4 separate regions of the Homo sapiens genome follow, and all the other regions are linked to region 1. The links come from fine-mapping of genetic effects on gene expression. A gene starts in region 1. Each other region holds a variant in brackets. All regions are shown on one strand. Distances are between the middles of the regions. Region 1 holds the start of CD24 (CD24 molecule). Region 2 has its middle 6.4 kb from the start of LINC02526. Region 3 has its middle 61 kb from the start of LINC02532. Region 4 overlaps PRDM1 (PR/SET domain 1).

Evidence for each region.
Region 2: its variant is fine-mapped to the expression of CD24 in lung (TOPMed, PIP 0.98).
Region 3: its variant is fine-mapped to the expression of CD24 in whole blood (TOPMed, PIP above 0.99).
Region 4: its variant is fine-mapped to the expression of CD24 in monocytes after LPS (Fairfax 2014, PIP 0.95).

Annotation. Positions count from the first base shown.
Region 1 is chr6:106,971,254-106,979,359 of GRCh38, forward strand. CD24 (CD24 molecule) reads right to left here and starts at 3,476. Exons shown (of 2, transcript NM_001359084.1): 1 at 3,325-3,476; 2 at 1-581. The coding sequence starts at 3,393. The coding sequence ends at 408. RefSeq lists silencers at 3,828-3,977, 4,018-4,237.
Region 2 is chr6:106,685,014-106,693,119 of GRCh38, forward strand. No RefSeq gene overlaps it. Among named protein-coding and RNA genes, the nearest start is that of LINC02526, 6.4 kb to the right of the region's middle. The variant A/G (reference allele first, on the strand shown) is at 3,386.
Region 3 is chr6:106,844,220-106,852,325 of GRCh38, forward strand. No RefSeq gene overlaps it. Among named protein-coding and RNA genes, the nearest start is that of LINC02532, 61 kb to the left of the region's middle. RefSeq lists enhancers at 994-1,053, 2,684-2,733. The variant T/C (reference allele first, on the strand shown) is at 3,104.
Region 4 is chr6:106,105,029-106,113,134 of GRCh38, forward strand. It overlaps PRDM1 (PR/SET domain 1), which reads left to right. Exons shown (of 7, transcript NM_001198.4): 5 at 1-905; 6 at 1,343-1,471; 7 at 1,883-4,910. The coding sequence ends at 2,458. Among named protein-coding and RNA genes, the nearest start is that of PRDM1, 23 kb to the left of the region's middle. RefSeq lists enhancers at 1-460, 461-1,174. The variant C/CA (reference allele first, on the strand shown) is at 4,063.

The DNA of each region.
Region 1 (8,106 bases):
TTTTATGGCCTTATAGAATTAATGAACCAAATGAAAACTGAATCTCCATTCCACAATCCCATCCTTTATTTCTATTCTTATTTTCAAGGTAGTATTAAGTGTCCATATTTCTCAAGCCACATTCAAGGAAATCATGTCTTAACTATTTTGGATGTTGCCTCTCCTTCATCTTGTACATGAAACTCCAGCAGATTTAATATTGGCATCCATCATCTAGTCAAACCTCTCACATGTTCTTCAAATCAATCAAATTTGGGATTCTCAACATTTTCTGTGTCAATAAAAGGTGTGGAATTAGTAGATTCGATGAAGACCTGTTTTTCCTTGCCACATTGGACTTCCAGACGCCATTTGGATTGGGTTTAGAAGATGGGGAAATTTAGAAGACGTTTCTTGGCCTGAGTCTCTTAAGAGTAGAGATGCAGAAGAGAGAGTGAGACCACGAAGAGACTGGCTGTTGACTGCAGGGCACCACCAGCCGCCTTGGTGGTGGCATTAGTTGGATTTGGGGCCAACCCAGAGTTGGAAGTACTCTGGGAGGAGTTACTTGAAGTTCCAGTTGTTGTTTCACTGGAATAAATCTAAAATACATAAAAAGTTACATGGATACATTTCCACATCACAGCTACCTCCATGTACTCTCATATAAAATTAAAGTAGGTGATATATTCTTAGATTGCTCTCTTACCATTGTTCTCTTACCCAACATCATTAACTTCTGAATTCTTGCTCAACCCACCAAGGTCATTCTCTTTAGTTTCAAAACAAACTACCTAGAGATGCCTCAAAAATGCCAAGTGGCAACAAGAACAAAAAAGTTATTCAATAACTATAACTCCTGTTTTTATTTCTTTGCAAAGGAAAAAAGGACCAGGTTAACTAATTCAGTTTCCAAGATTATATTGACTTAATGGCATTGCAATAAGGTCTATTTTCCCAGAAAGGGGGAGATTTTAAAGTTGCACAAAAAAATGGGGATTTTTAAATATTGTAACTGAGACTTATGGAACTAGAATTCATTGGGTCACTGTCTATCCTGGATTTGCTAGGTAACTTTCACATACTCAATTTAATACAGCCTTGGTAACTTAGCCTTTTCCTTAAGGGGGAAATGCAGTCTTATCTTCTCCCTTGAAATTTGAAATAGTAACTCTTCTAAAAAATGGCCACAATATTTGTGTTAAATTGAAAAAGAAAATGAGTTTTTCCTTTAAGGCAGAATGACTTCAAGAAAACACCATGAAGTCGGAACGATTTCACAAAAGACAACGAGAGGTTATGGTGTTAAGTTTCACCAGCAGCAGCCTCACTGGTCGCCAAGCTCATTGCTGTGGCCAAGAACCAAGGTTCTCCCAGTGTCCCAGCGTCTGAGTGGCATCATTCACCACTGATTTTTCAAGCCACGAAATGCACAGTCCAGTAGGGCACGTGATAATCTCTCCTTTGTCATGGAACAAAGGCAGATCGGAGTTTTCAGCCCTCACTGCAAGGGAGGGTTTACAAGAGCTTCTGATTACAGGCTGGAGGGAGGACGTGGCACCAGGCAAGAGTCTGGGCCCCGTGTACATTTGGCTGCCTATTAATCCAAAGATAAAGCCCTCCTACATCAGCACCAGCTCCTTTTGTTGTAAAATCCATAAGGTCATTAAACAAATATTGACTACAGAAATGTACAAATCCTATCCAAAATAGATTAGTGACAACAACAAAAAAATCTTGATCAAGTCAAATTTATTTATCGGGCACCTACTGTGTGCAAGATTTAGTGTGTCCCATCAGGAAACGGCACTCCCAATAAAGAAAAGCATTAATATGGTAATTTACTTAAAACAGGGTGCCTGTTTTGGACACCTTGTTTGGGATCCCGCAAAGTAACCTGTTCTTTATTCATGCAATGAGTTTTACTGCAGCAGGTGATGTTTTCTTTTTAAAACCTGGTGTATCAATCTGAGGATCTAAAGATCCTCTACACCAACAAAAAAATTATGTTTATTAAACTGACACTAAACAAAATTTTCTCTCCCAAGCTAGATTTATTCGCATTATTAAAACTTCTCACTTACAATGTTGGAGGAAAAAAATCTGGTCGGAGAGAAGATGGGGCGGGGAGTGGAGGGGGCCGGTTTCTCGCAGCCGCGCCCCTCCCCCATCAAAGAATTGAGGAAGGCTCGGGAGCGCAGCGGACTGGGAGGAAGACAATAGGGTACGGTTACCCCGCCAGCGGTGGGGAAGCGCGTTCCACACTCAGGCTGCACTCCCAGGTGAGCCCGGACTTTCGATGTCTGGGGACGGAGGACGCAGCGCGCCCAACTTTGGGGGAGAAGCCCCAGTGACAGTCCTCGATTAACCCCAATCGAAGGCGCTGGAGAGCCGTCACTCCCATCCTCCAAACCCGAACTGACCCAAACAAACGTACCTTCTTCGCCCCCGCCCCCGCTAGGGTCTCCCAGGCCCAGCCCCCGGTCTCTCTCGCCGGCGCGGTGCATCCATACACCCTCGAGGCAGCGCTGCGCGGCCCCGGGTACCCGCACCCGGGGCGAGGTTCCCCGGATGGAGGATCTAGGGAGACCGCGCTGGTAGCGGCGACCCGAACAAAGCCTGGCGGGGACTCGGGACAGAATCGTCCCACCATGCTGCCTCCCCAGAACTAGCCAATCTGGGCTAAAATAACATGGGGATCCTAAGATGACAAGCGATGGACGTGAAAGGTTGCCTCGCAGAGAGCGCAGCGTCAGGAGAGGGTCCCCGCCTCGGCTTCAGCCCGGAACCGGGGTTTGTTTAAAAAGGGCCAGATAGCCGTAGCTTCTCCGGGATACCCAATCCAACTCCGAGGGTGGAGGATGGGCGTGAGCCGCCCTCCCCGAAAGGGACCGTCGCCTCTCTTTGTGTAGAGCGCGGGGAGCGCGAAGACATTCCTAGGGGAAAGCGAGTCCTCAGGGACCCAGGGACAACGTCCCCAGGGAGCCCGAGCTCTCCAGGCGCTAATCCCTGCAGGCACCTCGGGCCTCTGGGTGAAAGTGGGAAGTAGTCACCTGGCTGCCTGGGAAGGGACAGCGTGGAACCTGGGGTGGGGCAGGGTCCTCTCAGCCCGCACGCGGAGCTGCATTGTTCCCAGGGCCGTGGGAGGAGGGGGGGCAGCACGCAAGGGAATGGAAAAATGGGGTCCACATGGCCCTCTCCCCTGGTCAGCTAAGCAAGATTCTCTCCCGGTCCCTGTCCGTGGCCCGAGGCAGGAGCGCAGGACGGTCCCCCGGGACCGGGTCCATCTCCCCTGCCCCCACCCCGGGAACGGCCCTCGAGCCCCGCCGGGCGCCAGGGCCTCACCTGCGTGGGTAGGAGCAGTGCCAGCAGCAGCAGCCCCAGCCCGAGCCTGGCCACCATTGCTCTGCCCATGTCCCCTCCGTCGGTGCGCGGCGCGTCTAGCAGGATGCTGGGTGCTTGGAGAACCGCTGGCTCCGGGCGGGCGCAGGCAAGGTGGGGAGCGCGGCGAGCCGGCGAGACCTTATATACCAGGAAAGCCACAATAGCCGTGACGTGGCGCCGCCCGCCCACCCCGGCTCCCCTCCGCCGCCGCCCGCCGCCTCCCCGCCTTCCCCGCCCCGCTCCGGGTTCCCCAGCGCCCCCGCCGCCGCCGCCACTGCCACCGCCGCTCCGGCCCTCGCGGGCCGGGAGCCCCCCGGGCGGGCGCCGCTGCAGGTGGGCGGGCGCCGCCGGCTGCTGGTACCCGGCTGGTATCCCCGCGCCGGCTGCGGGCTGCGGGCAGGCTGGCACAGGCGCCCAGCGCCTCCGGCACAGGACCCGGGGCACACACGCGAGCCACACACGCCGCGCTGGGGGCCGGGCCCAAGTTTCCTTTGTTTCCCGGGACCTGCCATCTTACCCCCCAAAAGAAAAGTCCGCGCCTCCGCTGCGGCGGGGTAGCCGCCTGTCCTGGAGCAAGTGCATTGCCACTCAGACTGCAAAATGCGCCCCGGGGACCCGAGAGGGGCTGCGAATTCCAGTGCGACCGCGTGGGGGGCGGGCGCCGGGACCCCTCGGGCAGGGTTATCTCTCGGCCCGCCGCAGAGGAAAGGGGAACGCGGCGGGCGTGGCGCGGACGCGGGCCGGACGCTCACCCTGGCCGACGGGACCCGGGCGCCGCCTAGCGCGAACCCTTCCCGGCTGGTCGGCGCTCCTCGCAGGCGGTGTCCGGGTCCGGAGCGATCTGCGCGCTCGGCCCCGCGGCCGCGCCCTCCCCGAAGCCCTTGCTTTGTTCTGTGAGCGCCTCGTGTCAGCCAGGCGCAGTGAGCTCACGGGGGCGTCCCGGGTCCGCATCTTCCCAGGAGCTGGGGAGCCGCTCGCTGGGCGCAGACCCGCTGCCTGACGCTGCAAACTACAGGGTTTCGGTCCCCCGCGCTCCTGCCTGCGGCGGGCGAGGAGGAGACGGCCCACCCTGAGGGGACCCCCTCCGCGGCCCTGAAGCCCCCACCGCCCTCCCCGAGCGGCTCTGCTCCCAGGTTCTACTCGGGGGCAGGAACCTCCCCTCCTGGCGGTCCCACTACAATTCACCGTCCCTCTCGAATTCCTGGGGATACACTTTTTCGGTCTCTGTTGCCCGTCATTCGTTTAAAGAGCAGAACCGTTCGAGATAAAGGCATTTACTTATCCGTAGTTGCCATTAGGCAATTTAATGAACCGGCACAAAGAGGAGATTCGTCATCACTCTTTAGATTTTGGTGGAATACTTTTTTCCTATCCATCTTATTGTGAAAACTTTCAAGCATACAACAAAAGTTGAAGTAATTTTACTGGTGGAGTATTTTGAGTTTAAATTTTAATTGCAAGACTTAATCTTTTTATTGAAGGTTTAGCCCAAGTGTTTTTCAGTCTTTAAAGCAAACAGCAGAGACCAAACCTAGTATGGTTGTAAATTTGTTTAAATTTCAGTTTTGCAGAACACTCTCGTTAGTATTTTTGGTTCAATTTTTAATTGCAAGACTTAATACTTTTATTTAAGGTTTAGCCCAAGCATTTTTCGGTCTTTAAAGTAAACCACAGAGTAGTAAGATTCTAAATTTGTCTAAATTTCACTTTTGCGTGGCAGTCTCATTAAAACAAAGTAAGTTTCAGGGAAGCAAAGTGACAATGAAATCTGCAGTAGGTTTGTTGACTGAATAGTGACTGAATTGGTTTGTGCCTTCAAGGTCAGTCACTTTAGCTCAGTAACTTTCCAAGCACGTTTAAGATGTGCTTGGGAACACAAGAATTTCTGTCGAGCACCAGTGGACTTTCCTGTTTAACAGTGTACCACATTATATAGAAATACTTTGGCCGGGCGTGGTGGCTCACACCTATAATCCCAGCACTTTAGGAGGCTGAGGAGGGCTGATCACCTGAGGTCAGGAGTTCCAGACCAACCTGACCAACATGGTGAAACCTAAAATCTAGTCTCTACTAAAATTTAGTCTCTACTAAAAATCCAAAATTAGCCATGCATGGTTGCTCATACCTGTAATCCCAGCTACTTGGGAGGCTGAGGCAGGAGAATAGCTTGAACCTGAGAGGTGGAGGTTGCAGTGAGCAGAGATCAGGCCATTGCATTCCAGCCTGGGCAACAAGAGCAAAACTCTGTCTCAAAAAAAAAAGAAAAAAGAAATAGTCTGGCCCAGCTTCTCCATTCCTTTTCCGGGTGAAAAAAATGGACTGTTTGTGACTCAGGAGTGCCGGGTTCCAAGGCAAGGAACATACTATGTCCTCCACAAGCTGCTTGTTGAACTAACTGGTGGTATTCCTAGGATAAGACAGCCTCTAAAGACAGACTGCCAGAGTTCAAACCGTGGCTCTGCTAATTTTGCTGGAGACAAAAAGCCTCAGTTCCTTCATCTATAAAATGGAGATAATAACATCATTACTAATTAGTTATTAAAGAGTTATTGTATATATAAGTGTTAGAATACTGCCTGCCTCAGAGTAGTAGCTCTCACTTAATATTTGCTCTTCCACTGAAGGTGCCAGCAACCAGAAGGTAATTACCTTCTCTGCCACTGTGTGATACGTGAAAGAATATCAGTCTCCAAATAATTCCCAAAACTGGCAAGGCACTCAGAATCTGTGCTTTGTGAACCATTTCATCACCAGCTAATGAGACTGGATAATTCACGTAGCAAAGCCCTTCACCTCTGCCCAGGAGTTCCCCCTGGGCATCCTACCGGGGGTGTTGCCCAGGACTTTGACAACTGGAGGCCCAACACAGGTAAGATACTTCTCTTTACAGGTCTCCACCCTACCCTTTTCCTGTACAGCTAGAAACTCAAGAAAACTGCCTGATTTTTCCTTTGCAGTTCTTTTGGCTTGTGATTCTTTCTTCCTATTCTTTATCCACTTCTCCTGGTTTTTCATAGTTTGTTTGCTAATAAAACCTGAGCCACGGCTGGGTGCAGTGGCTCACGCCTATAATCCCAGCACTTTGGGAGGCCGAGGCAGGCAGATCACATGGTCAGGAGATCGAGACCATCCTGGCTAACATGATGAAACCCCGTCTCTACTAAAAATACAAAAAATTACCTGGGCATGGTGGCACACGCCTGTAGTCCCAGCTACTCGGGAGGCTGAGGCAGGAGAATCGCTTGAACCCAGAAGGCGGAGGTTGCAGTGACCCAAGATCGTGCCACTGCACTCCAGCCTGGATGACAGAGCAAGACTCTGTCTCAAAAAAAAAAAAAAAAACCTTAGCCAATAATAACTCACGCCACTAACAAATTGAGACTCTTACCAGTTATCCTGAACTTTTTGTTGAGACACATGGCCAATTTCCATTTTATAGAGAAAGTGTGGTATAGAATGATTTTGAAACAGATTGATTGCATAAATTGATGTATGTGTGGAAAGTTATAACTTTCAGTTTTCATAGCTTTCATGAGATAGTATGAAAAACTCCCTCATTTGATGCTGGTTCTCTTCTGAGAATACTGAGGGAGGAGCAATGCTTACAATTTCTTTTCTTTTTTTTTTTTTTTTGGAGACGAAGTCTTGCTCTTGTTTCCCAGGCTGGAGTGCAATGGCACGATCTCGGCTCACTGCAACCTCTGCCTCCCAGGTTCAAGCGATTCTCCTGCCTCAGCCTCCCAAGTAGCTGGGATTACAGGTGCCTGCCACCATGCCTGGCTAATTTTTATATTTTTTTAGTAGAGACAGGGTTTCACCATGTTGACCAGGCTGGTCTCGAACTCCTGGCCTCAGGTGATCCGCCCGCCTCAGTCTCCCAAAGTGCTGGGATTGCATGCATGAGCCACCGTGCCCGGAAAATGCCTACAATTTCTAAGGGCAGACCTGAGACCAGACTGGCATAGCACATAGTGGATTCTGGGGTCAAATATGGATTTGAATCCTGCACCACCACTTTCTCTTTTTTTTTTTTTTTTTTTGTAGACAGGGCCTCACTCCGTCACTCAGGACGGAGTGCAGTGGCTCATTGCAACCTTCACTTCCCTGGTTCAAGCCATTCTCCTGTCTTAGCCTCCCGAGAGACTATGTCTTGCCTACCCAATATCCACTGCACCTGGCATGCAATCAGTCCTTGCTGGTTGAATGGACTAATATTAAGGAAACAGGTTAATTTGCTTTTTAAGATAAAATAGTAAATCCTGTTTCTAGAGGAACAGAAGACACAGGGGTTAATTATTTGACATTTTTAGCACTTTTGGCAAAATAGGTATGAAATATAATGTGAATCCAATAAAGGTGTTCCATCTGTGCTTTATAGCACAAATAGTGGCTGGAATAATCAAATATTTAATATAAATTCTGTTCTACAACATGATGCAATTCTTAGTTGTGTTCATAATACTCTTTTTTTTTGAGATGGAGTCTCACTCTGTCGCCCAGGCTGTAGTGCAGTGGCGTGATCTCGGCTCATTGCAACCTTCGCCTTCCAGGTTCAAGTGATTCTCCTGCCTCAGCCTCCTGAGTAGCTGGGACTACAGGCGCGCGCCACTACGCCCGGCTAATTTTTGTATTTTTAGTAGAGACGGGGTTTCACCATGTTGGTCAGGCTGGTCTGGAACTCCTCACCTTGTGATCTGCCCGCCTTGGCCTCCCAAAATGCTGGGATTTGGGTGTGAGCCACCG
Region 2 (8,106 bases), 290 kb before region 1:
ATGAGGAGACAAAAAGAGTACTACATAATCTGTACAAACAAATCAAGGATGGAGGTTCAGGACAGTCATTCCAATGAAAAGTCAGGATGTCTTGCCCAGTTTTCAGAACTGAGCCAGTTTTGGGTCCCAGAACCCATGAATTGAAAGAGATTCTGGGGCCAGGTGCAGTGGCTCACACCTGTAATCTCAACACTTTGGGAGGCCAAGGTGGGTTGATCACCTGAGGTCAGGAATTTGAGACCAGCCTGGCCAACATAGTGAAACCCCATCTCTACTAAAAATACAAAAACTTAACCAAGCGTGGTGGCACACCTATAGTCCCAGCTACTTGGGAGGCCGAGGCAGGAGAATCACTTGAACCTGAGAGGCAGAGGTTGCAGTGAGCCGAGATCACACCTGCACTCCAGCCTGGGTGACAGAGCGAGACTCCATCTCAAAAACAAACAAACAGACAAACAAAAAACAAAAGACAGAAAGAGAGGCTGGGTGCCCAGGAAGGCACAAGTATTCACAGTATTGATTTCCCGATTCTTCCTCAGAGAGGTGAATAACCATTTAATTTGGTAACTTCACACTGGAGAAAGGGGACTATCCAAACATTCTGAGGACCGCTGGACACAGACTCCAGGTTGACAGTAATACCCAGAGACCTGAACCACCATCATGGGACCCTGTTAGAGCGGGTGCCAGGGCCATCCTTGTGGATGTACGACGTGTGCAGCCACACAGGACTTTGCATTTAGAAGGTTCTATGTGTGGTTTAATTATTGGTTTAATGCTCTACTGTTACCCGCTTGAAATTCTTAATAATTTTTTTAACAAGGGGTCCTGTATTTTCAGTTTCTGCTAGGCCCCTTAAAAAATATATATGCAGTTGGTCATGGTGGGGAATATATGAGGGGCCTGGTAATAAATGGAGTTATGGTTCAGGTGTGGCTTACAGTGAATTCATTGGGTCTGCACACTCATCCATAGTCATTTCCTAGTCTCTGAATGTATGTTTGGAATAGACATTCCTGGCAATTAACACAACCCCACACTGCTTCTTTGGCCAGTGGGGTAAGAGCTATCAGGGTGAATACAGCCAAGCGTAAAGCTCTGAAATTGGTACCCTCTTACACACACACACACACACACACACGCAAAATAGTAAAGCAAAAACAATATTGCATCACAGAGGGTCTGGCAGAAATGAGTGCCACCCTTAAAAACATAAAGAATACAGGGGTGGTGAACCCCATCATGTCTCCATTTAATTCACCATTTTGTCACCTGTAAACAAACAAACAAAAACAATTTGAAGGGTAACTGTGGACTAAGAAGTAGCCCTGATTGCAGCTGTTGGGCCAGATGTGATATCTTTGCTAGACCCCATTTAAATTTCACCAACTGTCCAAACAATGCCTCTTTTTCTTTTAAGGTATAGGAATCCCATATGAAAACATACATTGCACTTATGTGTCGGTCCAGAACAATTCTGCAGCGTTTCACCCTCTCTCATATCTTTTTTTTTTTTTTTTTTTTTTTTTGAGACGGCAACACTTGTTGCCCAGGCTGGAGTATGATGGCACGATCTTTGCTCACTGTAACCTTCGCCTCCCGGGTTTAAGCAATTCTCCTGCCTCAGCCTCCCGAGTAGCTGAGATTACAGGCAGGTGCCACCATGCCTGGCTAATTTTTTGTATTTTTAGTAGAGACAGCATTTCTCCATGTTGGTCAGGCTGGTCTCAAACTCCCGACCTCAGGTGATCTGCCCGCCTCAGCCTCCCAAAGTGCTGGGATTACAGGCGTGAGCCACCGTGCCCAGTCCACCCTCTTTCAGTTTAAAAGTATAGGCCTTTCATTTTGTAGGATGATCATCCACCTGGGTGTGTCCAGTGTTTACCCATGGCCAGACTAGAGCCATAGATTCTTGGAAGGAATACTGCAACAGTGATTCTGTGCTCTTTCTTAGCCCATCGCATCAGGAATACAAGGCCAACCCGTCCCACCACTGGTGACATTTCCCTTGATCACTCGTATTTGGAGTCTGCCAGTTTTCTCGACTGTAAAGTCACCAGTCCTCCCTTTGCATTTGGTTGGTTATTTTGTGCAGAAATATTCTGAGATTATGCCAACACCTGTTCCTCACCAAACTTCTACCTACCAGCCTTAGCATCCATTGATGACCTCGTCTCTATCAGCTACCACAGATTGGGCTGCCAAATGGTAATTATCTATTTCCATTATTCCTTCTACAATTATTAGCTGGCATTCTACTGAAAGGAAGTGTTTTCCCTTTCTCTTATTTGTTTATATAATCATGGATTCATGGATTTCTATTGTAATCAAGGTTTACAATTCTATACTCTTATTTATTTTTATGCTCAAATTGTCCTCCCTTTGGCCAGGGGATACCGCTTCAAGCTAGCTTCTATGTTCTGTCTTACCGCCTCATCATTCTTTGCACATTTTTACATTTTCTGACACAAGAGGATATTTCTGTGCCCCCAGTCCAGTGGGGGCCCGCCTTGGTATTTGGAAACCAAGATCTGAGAAGGGAAGCTTCACTTAAAACATTTTTGAACTTTGCATCTGCTCCCCAATATTTCTGTTTTCTCTAAGTTCCTTCTTGTTTCTTTTTTTCTTTTCCATGCTGGAGGCTTTCTTTAAATGCTTGGCCATTCTTGGCTGTCTATTTGCATGGGAGTGAGGCATTGAAAAGCCTGTGATTAGAAGATATGTATGGAGAAGAGAGGGAGAGGTCATTGACTGGTAGATTTTACTTTAGGGTTTTAGAGTGATCTGGCCAGGCCAATTCATTAAATTTGAGTGACAATCGATTTTTTTTCTGTTTATGGCTCGGTCAGTTTTTATCAGAAGAATCTTCCAGTCTCCTCCCTAGAAAATAGGTACCTAGATGCCAGTGTTCGTAGAGCTGAGTTGAGCAAAGAGCTAGGATCCCACACCTGTTTAGTAGATTCCTATATAATGCCCACATTCTGTATGGAACTTTCACCCTCAGCTGTGCCTGGTGTCGTCAACCCTGGAGTCCCCAAGATTCAGCCTCTTTAAAGAATGAATCTTTAAAGCAGAGGACATACAGAGCATTCAACCTAACTCTTTTACAGATTTTTAACCAGTGCTGTTTTCTGCCTGGTGCCTCTAGCTCCTGAGCTTTTTATTTTGGGAGGTTGGGGGTGAGGTGAGTGAGGCATCCTTTGGCCAGAGTAAGCCTGGTTCTAGACTTTTCCTGGGGATACATTTTGATTTTTCTTATTTCCCAAATCAGTGGTTCTCAGCCAGCGGAATTTTACCCTCAGGAACATTTGGCAATAACTGGAGGCATTTTTGGTTGTCACAACTAGGGAGGGGTGCTACTGGCATCTAGTGGGTAGAGACCAGG[A/G]ATGCTGCTACAGATGCCATCTACAGTGAAACATTCTATGGCTCAAAATGTCAATAATACCAAGGTTGAGAAACCTTGCCCTAAATCATTTAGTGCAAACACTTCCAGCTTCTAGTTTTTTATGCTACTTCATTTTTTTCTTTTGTTCTCTGTTTTTCTGACTTTTAAAATCACATTGCCTTTTAAAATTATTTAATGTCATTTAGGAGTTGTTTCCAGAGGGAGTGATAGTAAACATAATTGTCTAACTGGCACATTTAACCAGAACTCCTGTGGTGGCATGTGAATTCATATTTGCAAAAGTGTTTCAATTCCTGTCTCAAACACCGGCATAGACAAATGTTCAGTGTTAGGAAGAATGTGTTAACCCAGGAGTGAAACAGAAAGCATGTGGAGTCGGCTAGAAAGGGACTTTGTGTCTTATGTAACATACAATTGCTCTGAAGGTAAGCCGTTAATTTTTTAAAATAAAAATGCAGAAATAAAAGCTGCAGGCTACAACAGTACATTCGCAGTCGAAATGTAAAAATACTTTTTTATTTTCACAGGGGCTGAACAGAATTTTTATGAAGGACATTTGGCTCCTGCACGTACATACATTATGGGTTTGTGGGGTTTTTTTTGTTTGTTTTTTTTTTAATTGAGATGGCGTCTCACTGTGTCTCCCAGGCTGGAGTGTAGTGGCACCATCTCGGCTCACTACAAGCTCCGCCTCCCGGATTCACGCCATTCTCCTGCCTCAGCCTCCCGAGTAGCTGGGACTACAGGCGCCCGCCACCACGCCTGGCTAATTTTTTTGTATTTTTAGTAGAGCCGGGGTTTCACCGTGTTAGCCAGGATAGTCTCAATGTCCTGACCTTGTGAATCTCCCACCTCGGCCTCCCAAAGTGCTGGGATTACAGGCGTGAGTCACCGCGCCCGGCCTGGGGTTTTTTTGTTAATTAAATTAAATTAAATTTGTCTGAGACAGGGTCTCACTCTGCCACCCAGGCTGGAGTGCAGTGGTGTGATCTCAGCTCATAGCAGCCTCAACCTCCAGGGCTCAAGTAATCCTCCCACCTCAGCCCCACACCACCCCAAGTAGCTGGGACTACAGGCACATACCACCACGCCTGGATAATTTTCGTATTTTTTGTAGAGATGGGGTTTCACCATGCTGCCCAGGCTAGTCACGAACCATACATTATGTTTAAACTTACCACGCGTGCCTAAGAGTCATTAGCATTTCCCATTGGTTGCTCTGGTCAGTGGTGTTGGCTTAAGCTGAGACTAGATAACATAGGACTTGCTGCATTTACACTGAATCTTAAGACAGGAACCCAGCAGGCCATCACTAAAGAGGTTTGTAAGTAACTAAGTGTAAGAATACAGAATGGGAACTCTTTCGTGTGTACCCAGAGACTCCATTCCCTCCACACCATGGACTCGTCATTCTCTGAAAGCTCCGTGTGCCAACAGTGAACATGCATTGGGCATATTAAGTGTTTTGGTCTTTTATTCTGGCACCTCATTTAAAAGTATAACACTTTCGTGAGGTCCTTGACAAATTAATAAACCCACTTATTTATTTAAATAAAATAAAACTTTTTACAAAGTCTAATTAGAAATTGCTCTGGACTAGAAAACAGCTTTAAAATGATGTCGTTCTTTTTTGTTGTTGTGTTGTTTTTGTTTTTGAGACAGAATTTCGCTTTTGCTGTCCAGGCTGGAGTGCAAATGGCACGATCTTGGCTAACTGCAACCTCCACCGCCGGGGTTCAAGAGATTCTCCTGCCTCAGCCTCCCGAGTAGCTGGGATTTATAGGCGCCTGCCACCACGTTCAGCTAATTTTTCGTATTTTATTTATTTATTTATTTGAGACAGAGTTTCGCTCTTGTTGCCCAAGCTGGAGTGCAATGGCATGATCTCGGCTCACTGCAACTCTGCCTCCCGGGTTCAAATTATTATCCTGACTCAGCCTCCCAAGTAGCTGGGATTACAGGCATGCGCCACCATGCCCGGCTGATTTTTTGTATTTTTAGTACACGGGGTTTCTCCATATTGGTCAAGCTGGTCTTGAACTCCTGACCTCAGGTGATCCGCCAGCCTCGGCCTCCCAAAGTGGTGGGATTACAGGCGTGAGCTACCACGCCCAGCTAAATGATGTAGTTTTATCATTGCTAGTTTTCCAGTGGACTTGGGAAATTAATATATTCCCTATGAAGGAAAATAAATTAAGTAAAAGAATCAATCACTGTGCTAACAAGAATGACTTTTGCATACCTCTGCAAAATAAGCTCAGTGAGTTTTTGTGAAATCAAATGTATGAAATATAAGTTAAAATAAAGTTTTGAGGAGCAGCTTTTTGTTTTTTTTTTTGAGACGGAGTCTTGCTCTGTTGCCCTGGCTGGAGTGCAGTGGCACCATCTCGGCTCACTGCAAGCTCCACCTCCCGAGTTCACACCATTCTCCTGCCTCAGCCTCCCGAATAGCTGGGACTACAGGTATCCTCCACCATACCCGGCTAATTTTTTGTATTTTTAGTAGAGACGGGGGTTTCACTGTGTTAGCCAGGATGGTCTCGATCTCCTGACCTTGTGATCCGCCCTCCTTGGCCTCCCAAAGTGCTGGGATTACAGGCGTGAGACACCGGGCCCAGCTCCGAGGAGCAGTTTTTAAGTGTATTCCCTAAGATTTTTTTTCTTATTTTAACTCAAGCTTTTTCTTATTTTTGGTCAATAAGGGTTTTTATATAGTTAAGAAAATTATCCTTGTTAAAAGCTAAGTCTTTGGTTGAAAATCATACACATACTCTCCCAGTATCTCTGGATGTGTCCTTTTCCATGAAAAACCTCTATGGTTCTCAAAAACACAGTAGAAATACCTATATAAGGAAAACTTGATAAATTTACATATTCAATATTAAAGAATTGCTTCAATTGTGTAAATAGTTCCATTTGCTATTATTTGAAGAGAAAAGTATTTAGGCAGCCTAAAAAGGAAATGTAAGCCTGCATTCATGATGGTGTTTATTATAGATAAAATGCTTCTGAAACTAAATGATTTCAGTAGTCCTTGACGTAAAAGTAAAGGCAAAAACATACGATATCATTTCTTTCTGATGTCATTTCCCATTCTCATAAAGAAAGCAAGTAAACATAATTGCATTTCAAATAAAGTATCTTGGTTGGCTAAGGTTAAATCAGGTTTTAAGCTATCAGGAAATTTCTTCCTTCAGAGAGATTAGAAGACCTACCTGTTTCTCCTGGACGTGAAACATAGAGTTCCAGTAACCATAGCCATACAGAAGATATGTCTCCCAGAGCCACACTAAAGTCATCACTTCCAGTCACTCTCATCTAAGACATTGGTAGTTAAACACATTTTAATCTGTGGCATTGAACAAAGGTGATATTTCTATGCTGTCAAGTGCTAGTAGAGTAAATGAAAGACTAAAATAACAAATTGAAAATGCTCCTATCTTTGAAAAAAACCTTTTTTTATTATTAAGAATATCAACCTCTTTATTAAAAAATTAGAAAATGCAAGTAAATTAAAAGAAGGAGCCTGTAATCCCACCATCCAGAGGAAACATGGTTGATCTGTTTCTATAGTGTATATTCTTCTAGACTACTGAATAATCGTATGCACCTTGAAAAACTTACATAATATAGAAAAAAAATCTTTTGCACAAATAGTATTATATCCAGTCCTTTTAAAATAATCTGGACTTTTAATTCCAGAGGTCCTGACATGATCTCTTTCCTTTGAAAAGCAAAGCCTGCCATCTGGTTTCTGCAGGTCATTAAAGGGTTTTTGCTGGAGTTTATCCTGGCAGGGGACTGCCAGGCAGTTGGGCTTCGGTGGCAAGTCCTGACTCACCAAGTCGGCGGCATCACATGACAACTTGCTCCAGCCTCTCCTTTGTAATGAATTTGGCTTCTACTGCTACACAAAACACCCTTGGAGACTAAAACCTACAAATGTTATGCATTCCTAGACTTGGAGAGAAACTATAGCTACCAAGCCCATTCTTTGTCCTAGATTCAAATGAAAACACTGTAATGTGACCTCCCACGGGTTTTCCTCTATAATAAATTTACAGAACTTCTGAAAAGATTACTAATAATTAATTATTTCCTTGTCCCCTCCCACCCCTTGTCAAATGACTCTGAAATCTAATTTCTTTTCCTTCTGACAAACAGAAAAAGGAAAGCTACGAAAGCTCCCTGTACAATTCCCTCACCTGTTTACAGCCCATTCTTATTTCAACAATCCTAGGAACTGGCAGAAAGAGAGGGTGCAGGGAAGAAAGGGTGTTACTTGTCACCCAGTGCAAGCAAACAAGATGTTGTGAAAGAAATTATGTCCTTCCAAAATTTGTATGTCAAAGGGCCTTTAAAGAGGTAATTAGGTGGCCGGGCACAGTGGCTCACACCTGTAATCCCAGCACTTTGGGAGGCCGAGGTGGGAGGATCACTTGGGCCCAGGAATTCAAGACTAACTTGGACAGCATAGTGAAACCCCACCTCTATTTGTTTTTAATTTTTTAAAAAGAGGTAATTAGGTTGAATGAGGTCATTGGGTGGGGCCCTAATGTAATCTGACTGATTTCCTTGTAAGAAGAGGGAGAGGCACCAGGGGTCCACACCCGAAGAGGGATAACTGTGTGAAGAGGCAGCAGGAGAGCAGCCATGTGCAAGCCAAGGAAAGAGACCTGAGGGGAATCCAACTCTGCTGG
Region 3 (8,106 bases), 130 kb before region 1:
GCTGGTAAGTATCTTGGATCTGTGTTTTGAAGCCGAGGTAATAAGCCTTTTGAACAAACTGCAAAATAAAGGACAAGGAGCAAATTCAAAAGGACTTTTGTGCAGATTCTTTCCTATCATTTCATGATATGGTTTTCACATCAGATATTTAACAGCTCATCAGTCTGATTATAGTACCATTAGTCCCACTTCTAAGCCTGATGAGCCACTCTGGTCTTGTTTCTTACAAAAATTAATTTTAGGTTTTTCTCAATTGGGATTAAATGTCAACCAAAATGTACTACATGAAAAGTCTTATTAACATTATCATAATAACAACTTATGCTCCTTACACATTAAAGCACATAAGACATTTGCCTACAATGTGTGATTGAAATCCTTTTCTTACCAACCTTAAAAGAAAAGCAAAAGATGCTGGTACTGAATATGAATAAAACATTCTGTCAAGAGCTTTTTTGCAAATGCTGCTCTAATTCATGCAAAATCAAATTTATCTCCATTGGATTAAATTTAACTGATTCAGATCCACATGGCTGACCAAGATGGGGTGTTAAATTCCTTTAAAAAATGGTAACTTCGGAAATATCCATTGGATTCCCATACTCTTCTATTTGAACAGTCAAATGCCCTTTATGAATTAGCAATGAGATTTGACAGAACTGATTTTCCTTGGAAATTACGTGAGATGTTCTATTTTTAACCAGAAGCTAAAAAAGTGTGATGAGATCAATGCTTTAAATTAAGTCTGCCTAAAACCTCAAGAAAAAGTTCTCATCAAAGGAACCAACAAAATCACAAAAATGAGGAGCAGACTGGGGAAATCCTGGCTAAAATTCTTGATAGACAATAGTTGTCCTGTTATTCTTCTTTGCCAAGATAGCCAGGTGTCACTGTGATGGCTTAAGAAAAGAAAAGAAAAGGAAAGAAATGACAACACAACTTCCACATGAACAGCCAGAGACTAGAGGAAATCCCCAGTTACTGTAACTGAGCTAACTTCAGCATTATATTCTGAACCACTTCTAGAAATGAAACCTTAAAGGCAAAACTTGGGGTTTTAATCTGACAGAAAAGTGAATTGGAAACATCTTTAATTTACATTTTAGAAAATGAAGAAAAGCATGTAGAAAAAAAATTGAAAGCCTTACAACCCAGGAACCTAGAAATAATAACTCCTGTATTTCTAATATTGTAGGCATTCCCAACCAGTTTTTGTTTTTTTTGTTGTTTTGTTTGTTTTGTTTGAGGCGGGGTCTTGCTCCGTTGCCCAGGCTGCAGTGCAGTGTCATGATCACAGCTCACTGCAGCCTTGAACTCCTGGGTTCAAGCCATCTTCCTGCCTCAGCCTCCCAGGTAGCTAGTACTATAGGTGAGTGCCACCACATCTGGCTAATTTTTAAATTTTGTGAGGAGAAAAAGTCTTGCTTTTTTGCCCAGGCTGGTCTTGAACTCCTGGGCTCAAGCGATCCTCCCACCTTGGCTTCCCAAAGTGATGGGATTTATAGGCATGAGCCACTGCACATGGCCTGCTTATTTATTTTAATGTAGTTTTTCTTAAACCTTTGAGGAAAGTCATCACTCAACGATTATTCCAAGTTGGAAGTATTCAGTGGCACAGCACCATCAAAAAGCCCTGAAAAAGGCATTCTCCAGTCTGAAAAGAGAGCTGAAATAGCCTCTCCCTTAATAAAAAGTGCCTGTAATCCCAGCACTTTGGGAGGACAAGGCCTCAGGAGGATTGCCTGAGCCCAGGAGATGGAGGCCAGCCTGAGCAATACGGCAAGACCCCGTCTACAAAAATCAAAGAAATTAGCCAGGTATAGTGGCTGACAACTGTGGTCCCAGCTACTTGGGAGGCTAAGGCAGGAGGATCCCTTGAGCCCAGAAGGTCAAGCCTGCAGTGAGCCATGTTTGCAGCACTGCACTCCAGCCTGGGCTACAGAGCAAAACCCTTTCTCCAAAAAAAAAAAAAAAAAAAGAACAAAAATAATAATGATAATGATGATTTCCAGAGGAACTTCTGCAAGTAGGGAAAGCCAGCAGTACCTACAAGCCTCAATTCATCCTGTGTCCCCTTGCCTCCACCATGACCCAATACCCACTGTTGCTCTGATAAGTGGAACTGGTAGAGTCTTGGGGAAACTTTAATAAGCATTAGAGAGAGTAGAAGGAAAATCAGCACAGAGAAGTGGAGGTACAGGCTGGTTTAGGAGGTGCTGGCCTGATCTGCCCATAGCTGGCTGTTCCCAGGCCTTGGTGTGGCCTTCTCTCAATGGTAAGCCATGGGCAGCCTCAGTCATTTGCTGAGTTCCAAATGGAAGCCAATCATGAACATCCTCAGCTCAGTCCTGGCAGGCCCCAGCTGCTCTTGCTTCCATTGCTTAACTTCTCTCCTCATTTCTCTGCTCCAGGCCCACCCTGGGCAAAATTGCAGAGTAGATTCAAGATCCCCTTCAGCAACCTGGTCTCGTGGTTCTGCCCAGAATAAATGGGTGGGATGACCCATTCTTTATGAATTGTCTTTCTGGAATTGGAGAGCTTTGCAGAGATTAGAAAGAGGCCTCATCTGGGCACACACAGCACTTGACACAGGTGTCCCCCCTCCTCCTGCTGAAAGCAGCCGTAGGACACAGGTTAACTAGTGGAGAGCAAGCTGGGTCTCTATCCCACAAGCCTCTCAGCCTCAGGCCTTTGTGCGGGTCATGAACCAAACAGTTGAGGCATTTGGGGGTCAGGGAACTTTCCTGGTACCTCTGAAATTTCTTCACAGGGGCAAGTGTCTTTTCCAGTCACCTAAGCAGACCTTGTTCTAGGCATCCCTGGACCAATATCATGGATTACCTTTGAGTTTTTCCTAACTGTTACAAAACGCTTTATGGAAAAGTTGTTTCTTTTTGCCTAGTGTTTATTTCTGTCTCCAAAGCAAGCTTGCTTTCATTTCTTTCACTTTTCACAATTTGGCAGAAAATGCTTTTCTCATTTGCCTCTTATGTGAAGACTTTTATCTTCTCACTTCCCCTTTCTTTTCTTCCTAGAAACGTCTTATCTCTTACCATCCCTGAATGTCCCCTCCAAGGTAAGGGAACCAGCTCTCACTTTTGAG[T/C]GTTTACCGAAAAGTTTCCATGCCACGTGGATGTGTCTCCTTGGGAGGGAGGTGCCTCGGGAGGGGGCTGGCTCCTTGGGGGCCTAGTCAGGCCTCGGGCCTTTCCTGGGCAGAGGTGACGAGGACAGCCAACCTAAAGTAACTGGGTTTCTGGGAAAGCCTAGAGGCCCCAGAGAGTCCTTTCACACAGTTCTCCACAGGTTACCATAGATATAAGGAAAATTTTTTTCAGCACTGATTTGCTTAAGCACTCTGTAAAATGCCGTTTTGAATTACAAATGAAGATGTGTATACCTTACTAAACACAAATATTTAAAATGGCAAATAAAAGAGTTAAGATGATTTAGAAATTTTAATGACCTAATGTATTAGTACAGTTTTAGTTGGGAGTTGGAGGACCATGGTAGATTAAGGTGAGAGAAAATACTGGGTGCTCAGTTGTTCTAAGCTGTATAATGTTTTGCAAAGTATAATCAAATAGAAAGTTGAAAGGTTCCTTGGTAGCTTTAAAATGTAAACTTTATACAAATCATGCAGAATGTTGTTATACTACCCTTCAAGTTATTTCTGGTATGTTACACTTTACATAAATACCTACATTAAGCTTGACTTCTTGATTAGAAAGCAAAGAGGAAAGGGAGCGCATTAAAGTGTTAACACAGGTGATATGGTCTGGCTCTGTTTCCCTACCCAAATCTCATCTTGAATTGTAATCCAGATTGTAATCCCCACGTGTTGTGGGAGGGACCTCATGGGAAGGGATCAGATCATGGGAGCGGTTCCCCCATGCTGTTCTTCTGATAGTGAGTGAGTTCTCATTAGATCTGATGGTTTTATAAGGGGCTTTTCCCCACTTCGCTCAGCATTTCTTTCTCTTGCAACCATGTGAAGAAGGACATGTTTGCTTCCCCTTCTGCCATGATTGTAAATTTCCTGAGGCCTTCCCAGCCATGTGGAACTGTGAGTCAATTAAACCTCTTTCCTTTATAAATTACCCAGTCTTGGATATTTCTTCCTAGCAGCATGAGAATAGACTAATACAACTGGGCATCAAAAATTCAGGATTTGAAAATTTGGGCATTAACAGGAGAGGGGCAATATTACTTCCCACCAAAGCAATATACAAATCTTATTTTTAAATTTGCTAATACACGTGATATTCCTTCCGACAATTACATTACTTTTTAAAATCTAAACTATTTGTTATTAAAATGTACAAAAGACTTTTGGTAAAACATTTAGATGGCAGGCAAAATGAATGAACCAAACAATTGGATAAATCTCATTAGTTTAATAAATGGTAACTAAAAACTAAAGTGCCAAAAGATTACATACAATATTATCCACACCTTTTTCACAACATTTAGAATAACTACAATAAAAGTATACACTTTTTAGGAATATGTGCAATAAAACTCTATAAAAAGGAAAGCAAGGGTATGAGGAACATGGAATTCAGGAGGAAGATGATCATGGGTGGACAGAGGATGAGGCAGGAGTGAGGGAACCAAGTAGTTAAATGTAAATTATTTTAAAGATCTTAGCTTTTATTTTGAATGGTGGCTTCCCAGACACTAGCTGCAGTATTAAAATGACTAACCCAGGAAATAAAGGAAAGGGAAAAGATAATATTGACAGTATCTAGAAATGTACAAATATATAAAACATATTGAATTTCTAGACCAATATCCCATAAGTGTCCATTGCTGACAATTTTCTCTATATCTTTCCCCAATTTTTAATCTTGGCATTTTAAAGCATATCCTAATTCCCCAATTAAAAAGCAATAAATAGCACACATGCCCAGAGAAAAGGCCATAAGTGAAGTCACTTGTGTTAATAGTGATCATAAGAAGAGGCTATTGCATAAGTTACAATATGTACAGTACACTAAAGTCTTTGGAAAGCACGGTAGAGTTAAGTCTTTTGCAAAAGACCTGAAAACTGTTGGTGATGGCAACCCACAGCTTCCTCCTAACTCAATTCAGACTGCTCTCTGCCCTCAGAGCTGCTGGACAGATAAGTCTTGAAGCTGTTTCTGTCTGACCTGAACTCCTAGGTTTAGACTAGAGCAAGGCAGCGGGGCTGGCGAGGACAGAAGGCTCTTAACAAATCATCATCCACCTCCTCACCTTCTAGAAAACAACAGACTCTTCAGCATCCAGAATCCAGCAGAAGAGAGACTGAAGTTTCTCTTTTTGTAAGAGAATTGGGTATAATAAATAAATAAATAACCTTTGTAGGTCTAGACCCCAAATGGAGAGAACATATTAATTCCTTGTTTAGTCTCTTCCTGGGACAAAGGTCCCACTCAGTCCTTTCTAATGGAGACCATGGCTGTCAGTCTCTAAGCAGGCTACCCCTTTAGCTTCTCCATAGAACAGATCACCAGTCTGCTTCCCAAACAGCCTACTTTCTCGATCCTATCTTAAGGAAGTCACACATCTCACACCATAAGCTTGAGCTGCATGTGGGGAAAGTGGGAAGGAAGTGGAGATGAAAGAGGAAATTACACCCCTAGCAGTTACAAATGACGGACTTAGATAGCATTGTCTAACCCAGGCCATTGGAATTCTGCACCATCCCCACTGCCCCTCTGCCTCCAACTGGGTTGCCACCATCTCTTCAATAAGCAATTAGATTTAATTAACATTGCACCCCGCATTTAGATGGTAGCGAATAGTGTGCCAGCAGACATTTAACAATTGGTTCTATGAAGAAAAAGCATTTGTAACGTGTCTATTTCCATGGTGTAAATGCTCTCATGGTGGCCAATTTCAAGCTGTCAACATGATGTCACCAGATGCAGATTGGGAACTGATACCACAGTCAGGTCTTGTGAGCTGCATTGAGCTGGCTCCCTTACACCACTAATTGTAATGCTTTCATTATAAGGTATTATTATTTTGGTAAGTGGATCTACAATTGGCCAATATTTTGCAGCCATGCCTCAGTTTCTTCGTTGTTAAAAATGGTAAAATAAGAACCACTTCTCCAGATTATCATGAGAGTCAAAGTGCAAAGCACATAAAATTTTCAAACCTTGTCAGTCCTGACTGGTTGCAGTGGCTCATGCCTGTAATCCCAGCACTTTGAGAAAGCCATGGTGGGAAGATGTCTTGAGCCCAGGAGTTTAAGACCAGCCTAAGCAACATAGCAAGACCCTGTCTCTACAAAAAATTTTTAAAAATAACCAGTCTGGTGACACATGCCTGTAGTCTCAGCTATTTGGAAGGCTGAGGTGGGAGGATTGCCAGAACCCAAGAGTGTGAGGCTGCACTGAGCTATGATCGTGCCACTGCATGTCAGCCTGAGCAAGAGAGGGAGACCTAGTACTTTGGGAGGCTGAGGCAGGAATATCACTTGTGGTCAGGAGTTCAAGACCATCCTGGGCAACATAGTAAGATTCTGTCTCAAACAATAACAATAATAATAATTTAAAAATATATACATCAAGCTGGGCACAGTGACTCACGTCTGTAGTCTCAGCACTTTGGGAGGCCGAGGCCAGTAGATCACCTGAGATCAGGAGTTCAAGACCAGCCTGCCAACATGGTGAAACTCCGTCTCTACTAAAAATACAAAAAATTTGGGCCAGGCGCAGTGGCTCACGCCTGAAATCCCAGCACTTTGGGAGGCCAAGGCGGGCGGATCACAAGGTCAGGAGATTGAGACCATCCTGGCTAATGTGGTGAAACCCCGTCTCTACTAAAAATACAAAAAAACTGGCCAGGTGTGGTGGTGGGTGCCTGTAGTCCCAGCTACTCGGGAGGCTGAGGCAGGAAAATGGCCTGAACCCAGGAGGTGGAGCTTGCAGTGAGCCGAGATCGCACCACTGCACTCCAACCTGGGTGACAGAGTGAGACTCCATCTCAAAAAAAATACAAAAAATTCGCCGGGCATCGTGGCGCGTGCCTGTAATCCCAGCTACTCGGTACTCGGGAGGCTGAGACAGGAGAGTCACTTGAACCAGGGAGGAGAAGTTGCAGTGAGCCAAGATCATGCCATTGCACTGCAGCCTGGGCAACAAAAGCAAGGCTCTGTCTAAAATAAAATGTGTATGTGTATATATATACATATATATATATATATATGTATATACACACACACACACACACACACACACACACACATCAATCCTGCTTCCGTCATCCTCTTGTCTTCTCATGTTGCACTTTCATTCCTAAAACTACTTTTGCAAAGATTGTGACAGTCAGAGGAATCTAGCATGGCTGACTCCATCTTGCTTCACAGGCTGGCTATCCTTGCTCATTCCTGGGCATAAGCCAGGCTAACCATGGGAGGAATTTTGTTTATAGTTTAACTTTGAAGCAAGGATGCTAATAGTCCTTCCATAAAACTAATTCCCTTGGCCAGGTGTGGTGGCTCATGCTTGTAATCCCAGCACTTTGAGAGGCTGATGCAAGTGGATCACCTGAGGTCAGGAGTTTGAGACCAGCCTGGCCTTTATGGTGAAACCCCGTCTCTACTAAAAAATACAAAAATTAGTGGAGCATAATGGCGGGTGCCTGTGATCCCAGCTACTCAGGAGGTTGAGGCAGGAGAATCGCTTGAACCCGGGAGGCAGAGGTTGCAGTGAGCCGAGATTGCACCACTGCACTCCAGCCTGGGTGACAGAGTAAGACTCCGTCTCAAAAAAAGAAAAAAAAAACAGAAAAACTAATCCCCTCCTCGTTCAGAGACTGAAGCTACCTTTGCAAAGCTAACTGTGGGAAGAGTCTGAATTCTACTAAAATGTAGGCATGATTTCTATCATCCCTTACTGCTCAGAAGTCCTGCAGCCAGAGGTCACAAAATCTGTGACTTCCCCAGTTGCTCCTATAGGTAATATCACTGTTGTAGGACCTAAGGTTGGTCTTTGAGATGGTTTTCAGACTTTTGCATTCTGGCAACCAGCTGACCCCATTTGGACCAGTGATTCATGACTCAACAAGTTCTGTGGCCCTCACCCAGAGGCAGACTCAGTGCATAAAGACCATTTT
Region 4 (8,106 bases), 870 kb before region 1:
AAATGCCCTTCTACCCTCGGGTCGTTTACCCCATCCGGGCCCCTCTGCCAGAAGACTTTTTGAAAGCTTCCCTGGCCTACGGGATCGAGAGACCCACGTACATCACTCGCTCCCCCATTCCATCCTCCACCACTCCAAGCCCCTCTGCAAGAAGCAGCCCCGACCAAAGCCTCAAGAGCTCCAGCCCTCACAGCAGCCCTGGGAATACGGTGTCCCCTGTGGGCCCCGGCTCTCAAGAGCACCGGGACTCCTACGCTTACTTGAACGCGTCCTACGGCACGGAAGGTTTGGGCTCCTACCCTGGCTACGCACCCCTGCCCCACCTCCCGCCAGCTTTCATCCCCTCGTACAACGCTCACTACCCCAAGTTCCTCTTGCCCCCCTACGGCATGAATTGTAATGGCCTGAGCGCTGTGAGCAGCATGAATGGCATCAACAACTTTGGCCTCTTCCCGAGGCTGTGCCCTGTCTACAGCAATCTCCTCGGTGGGGGCAGCCTGCCCCACCCCATGCTCAACCCCACTTCTCTCCCGAGCTCGCTGCCCTCAGATGGAGCCCGGAGGTTGCTCCAGCCGGAGCATCCCAGGGAGGTGCTTGTCCCGGCGCCCCACAGTGCCTTCTCCTTTACCGGGGCCGCCGCCAGCATGAAGGACAAGGCCTGTAGCCCCACAAGCGGGTCTCCCACGGCGGGAACAGCCGCCACGGCAGAACATGTGGTGCAGCCCAAAGCTACCTCAGCAGCGATGGCAGCCCCCAGCAGCGACGAAGCCATGAATCTCATTAAAAACAAAAGAAACATGACCGGCTACAAGACCCTTCCCTACCCGCTGAAGAAGCAGAACGGCAAGATCAAGTACGAATGCAACGTTTGCGCCAAGACTTTCGGCCAGCTCTCCAATCTGAAGGTAGGCCTTGAGAGAGAGCAGTCCAAGGGGCTGTGAGTGCATGCTTGTGTTTGTATTTAGCTTGCTTTCCATGGGGTATCGATTGCATTTGCAGTAGTATGAGCCCCCGGTTGGGGATAGTGGGTATGGATTCCGCCTGGCTTTTGCCACTTCTAGCTCTTTGACTTTGGACAAGTGACTTCCCTTCTCCTGATTTTCTTCTGAATAATAAAAAAATTAGGGGTTTGGACTAGAAGATTAGGTGAAACTCCCTGCTAGCCTGTGATTTTTGTGCTTTTAAGAAAAACACCATTCTGAAAACATGAAGATTTCTTCTTTTTAAGACTGTCTTGATGCTTTTCTTAAGATATTTGCATCAACACTTGAGTCTTGGAGCAGAAATGTTAGGTCTCAGAGCCAGCTTGAGAGCAGAGCTAACACATGTGGCTTCTTCCCAGGTCCACCTGAGAGTGCACAGTGGAGAACGGCCTTTCAAATGTCAGACTTGCAACAAGGGCTTTACTCAGCTCGCCCACCTGCAGAAACACTACCTGGTACACACGGGAGAAAAGCCACATGAATGCCAGGTGCGCAGTATTTTCTGGGTAGACCTTCTGACCTTTGTAGAAAATGTCTGTGAGTCACCCTCCCATGTCCTATATAGCCCGTAGTTAAAGCCAACACCAGATTCTGCGTTGTCCCATCCTGGACTGATGGCACTATGGTCCTTCCCAGTACTTTGTATCTGCTGATGACTTGAGATGGCACAGCCAGCTTCCAGTGGGTGGGAAAATGGTAGGGGAAATAAACAGCCCCTCGTGTGCTGTGTGCCCACATCCCCCCGTTTGCTTAATACCACACTGGAGGTGCCACAAGGAGGCTTCTCACCTCCTAGGTTGCTGGGCGTTGGCCGGTAAGCCTGCCCCTCCCGTTGGCAACTCTTAATCTTCTGGCCTTCCTGTCTCCCTTCCCTGCTGTCTCTCTCCCCTACACTGTAGGTCTGCCACAAGAGATTTAGCAGCACCAGCAATCTCAAGACCCACCTGCGACTCCATTCTGGAGAGAAACCATACCAATGCAAGGTGTGCCCTGCCAAGTTCACCCAGTTTGTGCACCTGAAACTGCACAAGCGTCTGCACACCCGGGAGCGGCCCCACAAGTGCTCCCAGTGCCACAAGAACTACATCCATCTCTGTAGCCTCAAGGTTCACCTGAAAGGGAACTGCGCTGCGGCCCCGGCGCCTGGGCTGCCCTTGGAAGATCTGACCCGAATCAATGAAGAAATCGAGAAGTTTGACATCAGTGACAATGCTGACCGGCTCGAGGACGTGGAGGATGACATCAGTGTGATCTCTGTAGTGGAGAAGGAAATTCTGGCCGTGGTCAGAAAAGAGAAAGAAGAAACTGGCCTGAAAGTGTCTTTGCAAAGAAACATGGGGAATGGACTCCTCTCCTCAGGGTGCAGCCTTTATGAGTCATCAGATCTACCCCTCATGAAGTTGCCTCCCAGCAACCCACTACCTCTGGTACCTGTAAAGGTCAAACAAGAAACAGTTGAACCAATGGATCCTTAAGATTTTCAGAAAACACTTATTTTGTTTCTTAAGTTATGACTTGGTGAGTCAGGGTGCCTGTAGGAAGTGGCTTGTACATAATCCCAGCTCTGCAAAGCTCTCTCGACAGCAAATGGTTTCCCCTCACCTCTGGAATTAAAGAAGGAACTCCAAAGTTACTGAAATCTCAGGGCATGAACAAGGCAAAGGCCATATATATATATATATATATATCTGTATACATATTATATATACTTATTTACACCTGTGTCTATATATTTGCCCCTGTGTATTTTGAATATTTGTGTGGACATGTTTGCATAGCCTTCCCATTACTAAGACTATTACCTAGTCATAATTATTTTTTCAATGATAATCCTTCATAATTTATTATACAATTTATCATTCAGAAAGCAATAATTAAAAAAGTTTACAATGACTGGAAAGATTCCTTGTAATTTGAGTATAAATGTATTTTTGTCTTGTGGCCATTCTTTGTAGATAATTTCTGCACATCTGTATAAGTACCTAAGATTTAGTTAAACAAATATATGACTTCAGTCAACCTCTCTCTCTAATAATGGTTTGAAAATGAGGTTTGGGTAATTGCCAATGTTGGACAGTTGATGTGTTCATTCCTGGGATCCTATCATTTGAACAGCATTGTACATAACTTGGGGGTATGTGTGCAGGATTACCCAAGAATAACTTAAGTAGAAGAAACAAGAAAGGGAATCTTGTATATTTTTGTTGATAGTTCATGTTTTTCCCCCAGCCACAATTTTACCGGAAGGGTGACAGGAAGGCTTTACCAACCTGTCTCTCCCTCCAAAAGAGCAGAATCCTCCCACCGCCCTGCCCTCCCCACCGAGTCCTGTGGCCATTCAGAGCGGCCACATGACTTTTGCATCCATTGTATTATCAGAAAATGTGAAGAAGAAAAAAATGCCATGTTTTAAAACCACTGCGAAAATTTCCCCAAAGCATAGGTGGCTTTGTGTGTGTGCGATTTGGGGGCTTGAGTCTGGGTGGTGTTTTGTTGTTGGTTTTTGTTGCTTTTTTTTTTTTTTTTTTTTTAATGTCAAAATTGCACAAACATGGTGCTCTACCAGGAAGGATTCGAGGTAGATAGGCTCAGGCCACACTTTAAAAACAAACACACAAACAACAAAAAACGGGTATTCTAGTCATCTTGGGGTAAAAGCGGGTAATGAACATTCCTATCCCCAACACATCAATTGTATTTTTTCTGTAAAACTCAGATTTTCCTCAGTATTTGTGTTTTTACATTTTATGGTTAATTTAATGGAAGATGAAAGGGCATTGCAAAGTTGTTCAACAACAGTTACCTCATTGAGTGTGTCCAGTAGTGCAGGAAATGATGTCTTATCTAATGATTTGCTTCTCTAGAGGAGAAACCGAGTAAATGTGCTCCAGCAAGATAGACTTTGTGTTATTCTATCTTTTATTCTGCTAAGCCCAAAGATTACATGTTGGTGTTCAAAGTGTAGCAAAAAATGATGTATATTTATAAATCTATTTATACCACTATATCATATGTATATATATTTATAACCACTTAAATTGTGAGCCAAGCCATGTAAAAGATCTACTTTTTCTAAGGG[C/CA]AAAAAAAAAAAAAAAAAAAAAAGAACACTCCTTTCTGAGACTTTGCTTAATACTTGGTGACCTCACAATCACGTCGGTATGATTGGGCACCCTTGCCTACTGTAAGAGACCCTAAAACCTTGGTGCAGTGGTGGGGACCACAAAACAACCAGGGAGGAAGAGATACATCATTTTTTAGTATTAAGGACCATCTAAGACAGCTCTATTTTTTTTTTGCCACTTTATGATTATGTGGTCACACCCAAGTCACAGAAATAAAAAACTGACTTTACCGCTGCAATTTTTCTGTTTTCCTCCTTACTAAATACTGATACATTACTCCAATCTATTTTATAATTATATTTGACATTTTGTTCACATCAACTAATGTTCACCTGTAGAAGAGAACAAATTTCGAATAATCCAGGGAAACCCAAGAGCCTTACTGGTCTTCTGTAACTTCCAAGACTGACAGCTTTTTATGTATCAGTGTTTGATAAACACAGTCCTTAACTGAAGGTAAACCAAAGCATCACGTTGACATTAGACCAAATACTTTTGATTCCCAACTACTCGTTTGTTCTTTTTCTCCTTTTGTGCTTTCCCATAGTGAGAATTTTTATAAAGACTTCTTGCTTCTCTCACCATCCATCCTTCTCTTTTCTGCCTCTTACATGTGAATGTTGAGCCCACAATCAACAGTGGTTTTATTTTTTCCTCTACTCAAAGTTAAAACTGACCAAAGTTACTGGCTTTTTACTTTGCTAGAACAACAAACTATCTTATGTTTACATACTGGTTTACAATGTTATTTATGTGCAAATTGTCAAAATGTAAATTAAATATAAATGTTCATGCTTTACCAAAATTTGTCTAGTGTCTTGAGTGAAGGGTCAGTGAGCGACATCTCCATACTGTACAGATGGCACCAGAACAAATTTTGAACACAATGCAATTTGTCTCTCCCCTGCCCCCACCCCTGTTCTTCTGCAGCACCCTCTGGGGTGCCCTGATCTCCCCCGGCTCCTTCCAGGAGTATATTTGTGCGTGATCTGACAGCATTGATTTGTCTCTCATAACTAAGATTTTTCTTTATGAACTATAAAAATGTTCTCTAAAGGAAGCATTTCAAGCATCAGCCAGTAAGTGGGAGACGATTTGTTTGCTTTGTGAACTTTTACATTTTATTTCGTCAATGGACATGGGGTGGTGAGCAGATAAGGAGGACTTGGATCACTTCCAGAAATGCCCTGCTAGCTTGTGCCAGTCTGTGTGCGTGTGTGGAGACTCAGCACACTTATGGGTGTGGGGCCCTGGGAAGCTGGGTCAGGGAACACTTTGCCCATTGGTGACAGCGGCTTCAGTAGCTTCCTCTGGGCAGGCCATGGGGAGTGCCCTACAACCCATGTTTACTCCTTCACATGTAAGCACGTTTGCTATTTGCTACTTGTCCTTTTTTTTTTTTTTCTTTTTTTTTTTTTTGAGACCAGTTTTTGCTCTGCCACCCAGGCTGGAATGCAGTGGAACGATGATGTCTTACTGCAGCCTTTATCTCCCAGGCTCAAGCCATCCTCCCACCTCATCCTCCCGAGTAGCTGGGACTACAGATGCGTGCCCCCAGGCCCAGCTAATTTTGTTTGTTTTTGGTAGAGACAGTCTCACTATGTTGCCCAGACTGGTCTCCAACTCCTAGACTCAAGCAATCCTCCTGCTTTGGCCTCCCGAAGTGCTGGTATTACATGCATGAGCCACCGCACCTAGCCTACTTGTGCATTTAAAAAGTTTCCAGAAAGCTGCTTTCCCAGAATCTGAGCGTTGTTAGTGTGAGAGCCAGGTATCTTGGTGGTATGGCCATGTGGCCCTATGTGATGGGAACAAGTCTATGTGCTTAGCCATTCACGCTCCAGAAACTAACCTGTGTCCAGAGAAAAGGCTCACATAAATTCGAGTCTCATTTGATAGATGTAAGTAGGAGATGCTTCTAGAAAAGTGATAGTTCATTCAGTGAAAAGAAAATCTAAAAGCCCTTTGCAAGTGGTTTTCATGCTTCCCATTTCATCTATTAGCAAATTTATGGTTTTATGCGCATGCTGACTGCATGTTAAGAAAATAATGCTCCTGCTTACATTTGGACACTCAAAACTGCCTGATGCTTTGTTTTTAATGTTTCTTCTTTAAATTCACTTAAACATCTGTGCCCAGAATTTGAAATTCTGCCAACATGTAACTGTGGAGTTAAGAAAACCAGAACCCTATTGTCATAAACGTGCCAAACGGCGCTGGTTATATTCCTAAATTCTACAGAACCATTGTGGTAATAATTTTTCAAAACAAAGCCCAATAGGATCCTGAGAGTAACAGCTAACTACCATAAATCATAGTTCTTTACTTGGCAAATCATTTCTTTCTTTTTTTTTCTTGAGAGTTATATATCTTGGGAACACTTATGGACTTAGCTGTTTAATGAAACATTACATAAAAAGATAATATTCACTAATGAGCCCAAGTCCACCCAGCCAAAGTCCATACTGTTGGATCAAGACTTCATCCAGCTGTTTGTAGGACAAAGTAAGACTGAAGAAGCCACCTTTTTCTGAGTTTACCTTCAACAAAATAAAAACTCTGTGCAGAAATGATGCATTTAATTCCCTACCATGAGGCAATATATAGAATATACAGCACCGTGGGAGTCTATAGGCACATTTCTAGATATTTTTTCCTTGGGGGAAATGAAATCAATTTAGGATCCGTAAGTTGGTATAAATGAGCTCATTCCTTCCTCTGTGTGTGTGTGTGTGTGTGTGTGTGTGTGAGAGAGAGAGAGAGAGAGAGAGAGAGAGAGAGAGAGAGAGAGAGATGCCTTCTCTAAAAGGAGATAATGAGAAAAGGCCAGAACAGAGGAATGAAAGTAATTAGAGGCACATGGCAGATAATTTCTAATGCAAAACCAGGCCTCCAGGATAATCTGGTCTAGAAAGGAAGGCTGTACCACAGAAGGCAGCAGCTGAAAGAATTGATGAACAGAAGAGTTAGATAGAATGTGATCATTGAACCAGTCCAGAAGGCACTTCTGTTTCCTTTCAGAGATCATGGAGTTCTTTGTCCATAACATGTCATTTCATTCTCAGCTTCTGGCCAGAAGAAATCAGATCATTATGAACAGTGGCCATCAAATCTACTTCTGGGTATGAAGTGGCTACAAGAAATGTTTTAGGATTGGTGGATAAGCTTCCCTAACATCATTTTTCAAGCTTCAAGTCCTCAGAACCCAAGTTCATTTGCTCAAAGTGCTGCTGACAGCTGCTCCTTAAATAAGTGAAAAGTGATTTTAATCTCAATACAGTCTTAATCGTGTAATTCAGGCAAAAATGCAGCAAGATTCCAAAAAGTTATTTTTAACTGAATTTATGCAAATAGTCACTCTCCCTTTCCCAGTTTTACAGCATACTATAAACTAACAAACCCTCTCCTAGTTTGCTCTTCCTTCCAGGTTTGACAAGTAATGAACCAGGGTTGGCTGTGTGCACTTTTCCTTCTCTCTGAATTTTCGATAGGTTTTATTCAGCATAAACATGAATGTAGTCATCTTGTGGTTTTCCCCTACCCCCGTCATAAAAGAAAGGAGAAATGACAGATAAATAGCAATGGCTAATCTTGGTAAGAAATTCTTCAATATGTTAACAAAGGGGGTTCTCATGGAATTGTGGCAAAGTTCCCCAACTTCAGGTGTCTTAAGGATTCACCTGTGGATGATGGCAACCAGCTCTTCCCCATTGTGGGTAAGGAGCAGAACAAAGGAAATGAAATTAAAGCGTTGCAGAGGGGACTTTGGTTTAAGTCACCAAGACGAACACCTACATTTAGGGTTTGTAACACAATGGATTCCTTCCCATGGGAGGGAGCAGTCCCCATCCTTGCAGGGCTTAGAGAGGAATCCGTGTGTTTGAAAGCACAGGATGAACAAGATGCTCTGGTGAGCTTTTCCTAGGTCTTTAGTGTTTCATGTTCTTTAATGTTCCTGAGGCTTCCTTGGAAATGCTGTGTATTTAGGCAGATCTGGAGAG